Homo sapiens: one gene and its partners. The protein of the gene in region 1 interacts with the protein of each later gene in a pairwise test. Each region holds a gene or a part of one and is shown in the gene's direction. Other genes may lie near its edges.

Evidence for each region. The genes of interacting proteins can lie anywhere in the genome.
Region 2: the proteins of MAPKBP1 (region 1) and GLRX3 interact in binary tests that used the Homo sapiens proteins (3 or more experiments, as listed by UniProt).
Region 3: the proteins of MAPKBP1 (region 1) and FXR1 interact in a two-hybrid assay, tested with the Homo sapiens proteins (one large-scale study listed by BioGRID and IntAct).

What each region holds. Positions count from the first base shown.
Region 1 is NC_000015.10:41,815,984-41,819,483, forward strand, and holds part of MAPKBP1 (mitogen-activated protein kinase-binding protein 1), read left to right. Parts: intron 1-575; coding exon 576-667; intron 668-926; coding exon 927-1,052; intron 1,053-1,404; coding exon 1,405-1,475; intron 1,476-1,630; coding exon 1,631-1,752; intron 1,753-2,025; coding exon 2,026-2,101; intron 2,102-2,210; coding exon 2,211-2,322; intron 2,323-2,535; coding exon 2,536-2,599; intron 2,600-2,839; coding exon 2,840-2,974; intron 2,975-3,262; coding exon 3,263-3,396; intron 3,397-3,500. UniProt on the Homo sapiens protein: Negative regulator of NOD2 function. It down-regulates NOD2-induced processes such as activation of NF-kappa-B signaling, IL8 secretion and antibacterial response. Involved in JNK signaling pathway.
Region 2 is NC_000010.11:130,160,391-130,163,890, forward strand, and holds part of GLRX3 (glutaredoxin-3), read left to right. Parts: intron 1-405; coding exon 406-607; intron 608-3,500. UniProt on the Homo sapiens protein: Together with BOLA2, acts as a cytosolic iron-sulfur (Fe-S) cluster assembly factor that facilitates [2Fe-2S] cluster insertion into a subset of cytosolic proteins.
Region 3 is NC_000003.12:180,943,670-180,947,169, forward strand, and holds part of FXR1 (RNA-binding protein FXR1), read left to right. Parts: intron 1-3,500. UniProt on the Homo sapiens protein: mRNA-binding protein that acts as a regulator of mRNAs translation and/or stability, and which is required for various processes, such as neurogenesis, muscle development and spermatogenesis.

The sequences.
Region 1 (3,500 bases):
ATCCTCATATCAACATCATTAAGCCCATGATAGGATGTACTAAGAAGGATGTGACAATGTTTCTGTGGTATTCTTACCAAAAATGCATAAACTCAATATAGGCGTGAGAAAACATCCGACAAACTCACATTGAGGTACATACCACAGAGTAACTGATCAATACTCTTCAAAAACGTCAAGATCATGAAAAGTAAGGAAAGACCAGAGAACTGTTACAGACCACAGAAGTCTAAGGAGAAGTAACTAAATGCAATTTGGATTCTGGATAGGATCTAGAGTCAAGAAAAAGGACATAGTAGGAAAACTGGTGAAATTTGAATAAGGTCTCTAATTAATAGTATTATACCAACATAAATTTCCTAGTTTTGATAATTGCACTATCGTTATGTAAGATGTTCACATTAGGGAAAGCTGGGTAAGGGAAATATAGACGCTCTCTGTTCTTTCAGCAACTTTTCTCTAAGCCTAAAAGTTCAAAAAAAGGAAAAAGGAGGAGAAAATGTAGCAGAGGAGGGGGCGTGAGTCCTTCCTGCGGCCTGGCCATGGCCTCTTCCCACCTCTCCTCATCTTTGCAGGGTGCACGAACTTCAGTCCCTGAGTGAGATGCTGAAGGTGGAGGCCCATGACTCTGAGATTCTGTGCCTGGAGTATTCTAAGCCAGACACAGGTTAGGAGAATGCCCGGAATGGCACAGGGCTCCTCCAGTCCTGCCGGTGCCACTTATATCTGTCCCGGCTCTTGGACGTGGGGTCGGTAATCTTTGGATCATTGGTGTCTTTGCTGGTTTAGAGGAAGACAGCTCTGTCCTTGCTCCATGGTTCACATGGCTTGGGGATATGGGGCTCAGTTCCCTTGGGGCTCTTTGCCAGGCCCAGATAAGGGCTGTTCAGGGCACTCATGGGCTGATGGAGTTCTTTCATCCCCAGGTCTGAAACTGCTAGCATCGGCGAGCCGGGACCGGCTGATCCATGTGCTGGATGCCGGGCGGGAGTACAGCCTACAGCAGACGCTGGACGAACACTCATCCTCCATCACTGCTGTTAAGTTTGCAGGTGCGGGCAGGGTGAATGAGACACATCCTGCCACTCTCACCCCTGCTGCCATCTGCCTCCCACCTCCATGAGAAGGGTCTGCCCATTGTGGGGGAGTGTTGGACAGCAGCTGGGAGGCCTGGAGCTGGTTGGGAAGATAGGTGGAACAGAGACTCTCAGTGCTGGGACTTGAGCCAACCAGGTTGGACTGAGGATAAGGAGACAGGAAAACCTGGGTTTCCAGGTTTAATTTAGTTGGTTTTCCCTGGCATGTAGAGTAGCTTGATGGGGGATCTCATGGAGGGAAGGTGGGAGGCAGGCTGCTCCCATGTGGTGAGAACAGTGGGAACAGCTGGGCTTCCCTCCTTCATAGCCAGTGATGGGCAAGTCCGCATGATCAGCTGTGGAGCAGACAAGAGCATCTACTTCCGCACTGCGCAGAAGGTGAGGGCGCTGGGCTTTCCTGAGAGGGGCGGGACAGGGCGGGGTCTGCCATTCCCTGCCTAAGGTTACAAGAGGTGAAGGGAGGCGCAAGTAGGGCTCTTGGGGCCTGGTGAGGCATTTGGGTGTGGGCCTGCCCACATGCTCCACCCCTGCAGTCTGGAGATGGAGTGCAGTTCACACGGACACACCACGTGGTGCGGAAGACGACCCTCTATGACATGGATGTGGAGCCCAGCTGGAAGTACACGGCTATCGGCTGCCAGGACCGAAATATTCGGTGGGCGTCCCCTCCTCAGACTCTGCCCACATTCCTTCATCTCCCTACGGGGTCAGCTCTGTGCAGCTAAGTTCCCACATCTGTCGTTCTGTACAGGACTTTGTACCCCCTTGAGCCTACAGTACTTTGCTTCACCCAAGAGGTGGTAGCCTGTTTGCTGCTGGGGGTAGCTCCCAGAGAGTGTAGACTGGGAGTGAAAGCTGGCATTTCCATCCCCCAGGCGTGTTCCACCTTCACCGCCTCCTCATGAGAAAGAGACTATGTTTCTTACAGGATATTTAACATCAGCAGTGGAAAGCAGAAGAAGCTGTTTAAAGGGTCACAGGGTGAGGACGGCACACTCATTAAGGTAAGGACCCAGAGGGGGTACTGGACAGGGGCTCGGGGACAGAGTGGTGCTGGGTGGGAGGGACTGGTACTTCCCATGTCCTCCAGCTGCACACCCTGCTACTCCTCAGGTGCAGACAGACCCCTCAGGGATCTACATTGCCACCAGCTGTTCTGACAAGAATCTCTCCATTTTTGACTTCTCCTCAGGCGAGTGCGTGGCCACCATGTTTGGCCACTCAGGTGAGTGTAGCCTGAATCCCCGAGTAGAAGCTGATACCTGCGTAAACCTGAGTGAGTTCCACCCCTGGAACTTCACTCTTCTATTAGTTTCTTGGGACCCGCAGAGCTACCTATCCCTACCCTGCAGCCAACCCCCGTGTCCACTGTTGGGATGGAGAGGACTTGGTTGGGAATTTAAGGTGGCTTATAGACCGTATTCTTTGTTCTTCACAGAGATTGTCACTGGCATGAAATTTAGTAATGATTGTAAACATCTCATCTCTGTGTCTGGGGACAGGTGAGCAGAAGCCAGCTTCCCTGAGAGGCAGATTCTTACTCTGCCACAGCACCCTGCCCTCCCCTCTCTCCATTTCAGTGATGTCTCTGGGAAGTGGGGTTAACAGGGATAGCTTTTGGCTGTGCTTGACCTGAAGTGGAGGGTGGCTCTGGTCTCCTTGCCATCCATGGATAAGGGGAACGAATGGCGCTAGCCATTCTACCTGCCCCTCCTTCAGCCAACTGTGTGGCTTTACCCCAGCTGCATATTTGTGTGGCGCCTGAGCTCTGAGATGACCATCAGCATGAGGCAGCGTCTGGCCGAGTTGCGCCAGCGTCAGCGGGGCGGCAAGCAGCAAGGACCATCCTCTCCCCAAAGGGCTTCTGGACCCAACCGGTGAGAACAGAATGTGGGCAAGTGATGGGTGGGTGTGCAGATGGCTTGCTGGGACCTCACTGCACTTCCTCCATGCTTTGGGCCTGCCATTCAGCAACTCTGTCTCCCAAGACCTTACCTCTCACACAAGGATCCATGATGTCAGCCTCTTCCCCCTGTTGAGTCTCCTCTCCCCCTATTGAGTCTCATCTTCCCCTCATTGAGTCTCCTCTTCCTTCTTCCCCCACTGAGCCTCCTCTCCCCCTATTGAGTCTCCTCTCCCCATGCCCTTCCTTGTCTCGGACTCAGGCACCAGGCCCCATCAATGCTGTCTCCTGGACCGGCTCTCTCATCAGACAGTGACAAGGAGGGAGAAGATGAGGGGACTGAAGAAGAACTTCCAGCACTGCCCGTCCTTGCCAAGAGTACCAAGAAGGCACTGGGTCTGTGGCAGTTGGGTGTGGGGGCAGACAGGCCCTAGTTGGTATAATGGCTAGATATGGTTTTTCTGAGACTGTGGGGTGAGAGCAGTGTGAGCTGAGGAAAC
Region 2 (3,500 bases), on another chromosome or scaffold:
CCTGGACATAATGGAATCTCTGGCTGGTTCTGGTTTGATGAATGACTTTTAGGAAGCAGGTGCACACCTGTGCTTCCAGGCACCCATGGGTGTCATCGTAGTTCCCCAAATACCTCATTTATACTTAGTAATAGATTCATTCCAGCCAATGTGGGGGCAGTCTTTTTTGTATTATGTTAGACTGACCTGATTTGACTTTGAGATGTTGCAGTGTTTTCTCAGTGTGTTTCTGAGAAAAGAAAAAAATTATGTATTTCTAAAATTGAGATGCAGTGCAGGCAATTGGCAATGAGGGTTTCTTTTTTTACATCTCCGGTAATACTGTTGTCCCCTTTAAAAATCTGCTATAACAATGTCATTATTATGGAATGCTGCATGTATTCTAAATAACTTTTTAAACTTTAGAATTCTCAGAAAATCGACCGATTAGATGGTGCACATGCCCCAGAGTTGACCAAAAAAGTTCAGCGACATGCATCTAGTGGCTCCTTCCTACCCAGCGCTAATGAACATCTTAAAGAAGATCTCAACCTTCGCTTGAAGAAATTGACTCATGCTGCCCCCTGCATGCTGTTTATGAAAGGAACTCCTCAAGAACCACGCTGTGGTAAGAAGCTGCCTTTAACATAATATAAACAAAATGGGTGCTTTCCCAGAATGGGGTATGGTTGAGATGGGCATCCTGTTTCCAAGGATGCTATACCATACATCTTATACTTGTGTTCACATACTTTTAGAAAATCAAAAAGGTTATAATTCCCAATGACACTATATAAGAATTAGTTTGCATTATGGACTCAGCATGTTGGAACCAAAAGGGGTCTCAGAACTCATCTAATTCAGATTTTTGTTTTATACTGAAGTCCTCAGACTCAAAGATAGAGGTGACTTGCCCAAGGTCACCTGGTAAGCAGAGTTAGGATTAGGTTCCAACTACCATATTGCTGTCTCTTTTGCCTGTTTATCTACTTTTGCTGTTAACAGTTATTTTTTCTTTCTTGGCAGCCTCCTGTTTTTCACCTAGTTCAGATTCAGCAATTAAAAAATTTGCGGAATTTTTCAGTGTTTTTGTGTCCAGCCTGTGTGCTTTTGCCTCCCCTGTGTCATCACTGTCTAATGATTCTCTTCCTGCATTGCTGTCATTTCCAGTTTATAGCTGCTGGTAATGGAAAGATTCCGAATTCTTGGCTTGTAGTCACTCTTATTTTCTGTACACATGGATGCTTATAATTTTGTCCTTAAGTAAGTTTTAGAGTTATTTGACCCCTCTGGTAGTGGGTTTATGTTATTTTCTTTTTACTGTGCCTAGTACAACATTAGTATGCTGCATAATTGAGCATTTAATGCCATTTGATGATGCTGTTGAGACTCTAAGAGTATTTGTATCAACTACACAGGAGGGACTTTATTAAGATAGGGGCAGTAACATTGAGTATGCTCTTGATATGATTACAGCATGTCCAGAGTGACTTTATAAAGATAGCCAAGCTTCTAGTGTGAATTTGATTCTAAATTCTTCCCTGTAGGGTTATTAAATTACATATTAGCTTATGATAATGTCTAGTTTTAAAAATAAAGTTTCATGATGAATTCTTATTTTTTCGAGATGGAATTTCGCTCTTGTTGCCCAGGTTGGAGTGCAATGGCACGATCTCAGTGCGACGGAACCTCTGTCTACTAGGGGTCAAGCGATTCTCCTGTCTCAGCCTCCCGAGTAGCTGGGATTACAGGTGTCCACCACCATGCCCGGCTAATTTTTTTGTATTTTTAGTAGAGATAGGGTTTGTCCATGTTGGTCAGGCTGGTGTCAAACTCCTGACCTCAGGTGATCCGCCTGCCTTGGCCTCCCAAAGTGCTGCTGGGATTATAGGCGTGAGCCACCATGAATTCTGTCTTAAAAGTATCTCTTAGTTCTGCCTAAAAAATTTCCCTGCCAGTATTTATGTGTCAGATAATGCCTGCTATTTGTGTATTGCAAAGCTAACTTAGTCTGTACTAAACTAAAGGTAGCAACAGATAGTCTCTGTTGCGTTTGTTATTTTGTTTTTAACGGGGGTTGCAAATGGTTCACATTCACCTTCTTCCATGAAACATGAAAATTATTTCTTGTACTTTGTGCGGTGGCCACTAAATGGGAACTTACCACTTCAGTTGAATGGATTGTATTCAGCACCTTCATTCAGATCTCAGGTACAGTAGAACTGGCTGTGAAATGTGGGTGAAGCACACCTACAGTGAAATCTCTACAGTATTCTCTCCTTTGGGGTTGAACAGCAGCAGTCTCAGTCTTTTCTGAATGATAAACCTAATGAAAAGGCAGGTGGCAACACTGAAGCTTGGGGAAGGAGTGCTCAGAGGAGAAGGATGTCCTGGGAAGTGTGCTGCACTGGGTGTCATGCCAGGCGAGCCTCAGGCCCACCCCTGCGGCCTTAGCAACTTTGGGGACAAGTCAGGTACCCTCCTTGTGCCTTTAATTCCTTCTAGTGCTGTTGGGAACAAGATTGGCTGTTGGAGCCAATCTTGGAGGGCCTTTTCAGTGTAGATATTGTATGATTATTCAAGTAAATTAGAGAGAAACTTAGACATTTTAATTTTTCTGCTTACCTTTTACTTTATTAAACTGAATTTAAAATATACTGCTAGCATTTTTATATTTATATTAAACTTATTTAAATTATGTTTATTATAATGGAGTGAGATTTGGAAGACTGTACAAATAACAGAATAAAAAAGAAGCTTTGAAATATTTCAGGGCTGGGCGTGGTGGCTCATGCCTGTAATCCCAGCACATTGGGAGGCTGAGGTGGGCGGATCGCTTGAGATCAGGAGTTCGAGACCAGCCTGGCCAACATGGCGAAACCCCGTCTCTACTAAAAATACAAAAATTAGCTGGGCATGGTGGAGTCCTGTAATTCCAGCCACTTGGGAGGCTGAGGCAGGAGAATTGCTTGAACCTGGGAGGCAGAGGTTGCAGTGAGCCGAGATCGAGCCACTGCACTCCAGTATGGGTGACAGAGTGAAACTCTGTCTCAAAACAAAACAAAACACATTTCAGAGCCATCTGAAAACGTAGTATTATAGTTATTTAATTAATAAAAGACAATAAATATTTTGAGATACATATGGTTGAATGGTTACAGTTTCTTCTTTTAAAGTACTTCTATATAATTTTTATAACTACATTTTCAGTGGGTTTTTCTGTTTCCTGATATTTTCTGTTTCATGTCTTTCTGTCACATATAGTAAATAGATCATTTAAGAATGTTGCTGTTCTTTAATAAAATACTTAGGATTAATTGGAAAATATTTTTAAACTGTTTTCTTATGGGAACATAAGTCACCTCGACCCTCTGCTGTTCCTTTCTGAGCCTGGTTAGTGGAGCATTGTTTTTGCTCTTCTTCTGGCATTTTAGAGAAGGGCGTAGGCAAAGCTCCCTTTATAAAAGCACTGGCCATCTCATCTTGTGAACACGCACGTGGCTGCTCTTTCCTTATTTTGC
Region 3 (3,500 bases), on another chromosome or scaffold:
AAGTTTAAAATGGAGTTCAGCATTTCATCGTTCAGTGAGAAAAGCCTCCAGGCAGTTGAGATGGTTTATTTAGAAAGCCAGATTCATGAATGATTATGCTTTGGTGAAAATAGAATAAGGGGGTTAGGTAGTTTTAAGACATAACATTTTCAGCAAATGAGGCTTGATTTACCCACATTAACAAGAGATATTCGAACTGCCTCTCTGAGATAGTTACTCGAATGGGCACCTTCTTTTGGTTGTTAGGATATTCTTTTTTTTTTTGAGATGCAGTTTCGCTCTTGTTGCCTAGGCTGGAGGGCAATGGCGCGATCTCAGCTCACCGCAGCCTCCGCCTCCCAGGTTCAAGCAATTCTCCTACCTCAGCCTCCCGAGTAGCTGGGATTACAGGCATGCACCACCACGCCTGGCTAATTTTGTATTTTTAGTAGAGACAGGGTTTCTCCATGTTGAGGCTGGTCTCGAACTCCTGACCTCAGGTGATCCACCCACCTCGGCCTCCCAAAGTGCTGGGATTACAGGCGTGAGCCACCGCGCCCGGCCTAGAATATTCTTTTTGTAACCCTCAGTATACTTGGGAAAACAGTCATCACTGATCGTTTACCAAATAATTTTGTAGCAGAAAGAATGAAAGGGTAGTAAGGTCGTTATTGGACCTTTTTTTTTTTTGAGACAGGGTCTCGCTCTGTCACCCAGTTTAGAGTATAGTGGCATGATCATGGCTCACTGCAGCCTTGACCTCCCAGTCTCAAGTGATCCTCCTTCCTCAGCCTCCCAAGTAGCTGGGACTAGAGGCATGCACCAACCACACCTGGCTAATTAAAAAAAAATTTTTTTTATAGAGACGAAATCTTCCTGTGTTGTCCAGGTTGGTCTCAAACTCCTGGGCTCAAGCAGTCCTCCTGCCTCAGCCTCCAAAAGTGCTGGGATTACAGGCATGAGCCACTGTGCCCCCCATTATTAGACTTTTTTAAAGGCCATTATTGACTCCATGCTGGAGTATAGTGAAGCAAACACAACTCACTGCAGCCTTGACTTCCTGGGCTCAAGAGATCCTTCCACCCTACCCCAGGCCCCCAAGTAGCTGAGATTACAGGCACATGCCACCATGCCTGGCTAACTTTTGTATTTTGCATAGTGATGGTGTTTCACCATGTTGTCCAGGCTGGTCTCGAACTCTGGAGCCAAAGTGATCTGCCCACCTCAGCCTCCCAGAGTACTCGGATTACGGGCGTGAGCCCCACCACGCATGGCCTTATTAGACATTTTAGTGAGGGTTTAAACATAGCAAATCTAACTTTTTCATATTTTCCAGGTTTTGATGATATATGTATCTACAATGAATGCAGTTCTCTAAATGTAACTAACTGCTCACTGTTATACATGAACCTAGAACATACCAATCTTATAAATATTGATAGCAGATTTAAAATATATCTCTAATAAATTCTAGCTTATTCTGGTTATTCTTACAGTTGGATCATCAGAATGCAGTCCTTGAATACTTTGGAACTTTTAATGACATCTCATTCTATTGAAGAAGGGATAGCCATCTCTGTGCTGTAATTTTAGCACATTTAGTCAGTTGGATTGACTAATCTATTGAATATTTTTGCATTTCATTATCTTTCTTTTTCGAGTTACCTTTGTATACACATCTGCTTTTGACATTTCCACTTACGAAGTACATTTTGGCACACAAACATTTCTTAAAATTTTATCTTCAATTTTTATTTTACCTTTTTTTTCCCCCTGGACAGGGTCTCGTTCTGTCACCCAGGGTTGAGTGTAGTGGTACAATCTTGGCTCACTGCAGTCTCAACTTCCCAGGCTCCAGCAATCCTTCCACCCTAGCCTTCCATGTAGGTGGCACCACAGGTGCACGCTACGACACCTGGCTAATTTCTTTTGTATTTTTGATAGAGATGGGGTTTCATCATGTTGTCCAGGGTGGTCTTGAACTCCTGAGCTCTCAAGCAGTCGACCTGCTTTGGCTCCCCAAAGTTTTGGGATTATAGGTGTAAGCCACCGTGCCTGACCACAAACATCTTAAAAGATGGAAGAATACTGTCATATACCCTTTTAGCAAACCAGGATGATCTGGGTTCTTGTTGGAGGATTTTGCATGATGGAGTCTCAGTTGAGTCATTAACTGGATGAGAATACACATCATCTTTCCCTCTTCTCCTTAGAAATACATTGTTTGAGAACAATGTTTGAGAAATACATCGTTTGAGAAATACATCGTTTGAGAAATACATTGAGAACATTCATCTAAGATGTCACCATCTCAGACTTCATAGTCTGAGGTTTTGCTTTGTAAGATAATTTCACATTTATCAGTACTCTTTGCATCTGTTGTCTGATATCTCTAATAATTAGAAAGGCCTTCCTCTGTAAATTTTTCTTCTCTTCGCAATTATGAGTGAAAAAAATTCATAATTATCAACTGGTCAACGGTAGCTAAAAGCAGACTACAAGGATGGTGTCTTTGGTCTTTTTGAACTGTTTTGAAAGAGATGTGATACCTCAGGCTATGCAGTAAGGAAACTGTATGAACATTAACAGTTTATTTCACTGTTGTATCCTCTAGGTGATGCCATCATTCCTCTGTTCCATTTTAGTCTTTATTTAAAGCATAGCTGAGAATAACTGATGAATGTTGATGAAATTGTAAAGTGTTTCAAGATATAGGAAAAATAAGATCACTAGATTCTACCTTACATTTATAAAAGGGCCCAGTGGATACATATAATAATTACAGAATAAGGGTGAGTTCTGTTCTAGTCTTAGAGAAGTAAACTTTCTTGTTTTTTGGAATATGTCGTAAGGAAGAATATAAGTCATGAGATATTGATCCCTTTGAATAGTTAGATCTGTTTATAAAAGAAATGGAAAAGCTAAAATTGAGTTTAACGGACCCTGATTGGTATATTGGACTTCCTGCTTTTTCTCATAGCTTTTTTCTAATCATGGTATACGATAAAGTTCATTAGTAGGTTTTGGTTTATTCATTTCCAGTTCCAGTATTCCTACCACTTCCAAGATTACTCTCAAATCATCCTGATAGAAGCTTCAGGCTTTCTAAAAGTCTTTGTTTTTAGTTGTTTGTGTTTATCTCCCAGATGGCTGTTAACAGCCACTGATAGGTTTCCCTGATGATCTCTGCAAGGACAGTCAATCTTGGTTTTTATTGGTTTTTAGTTTCTTCTCAGCCCCCCTTTTCTACCTTTCTCTATACTGAAAATATAATACGTTAAAGAAGCTCTGCTGTGTCATAAGAAATAACTCTAATCCCAAGTGAAAGCTTCTGTGACCTATTACGTTAATAAAACTGATATTTATAGATATAAAGAATATGACTTGTTTTTTTGTGGATAGTTTTTATTTTGTTTTTTTTGAGATGGAGTTTTGCTCTAGGTGCCTAGGCTGGAGTGCAATGGTGTGATCTCTGCTCACTGCATCCTCCACCCTCTGGACATGATTCTCCTGCCTCAGCC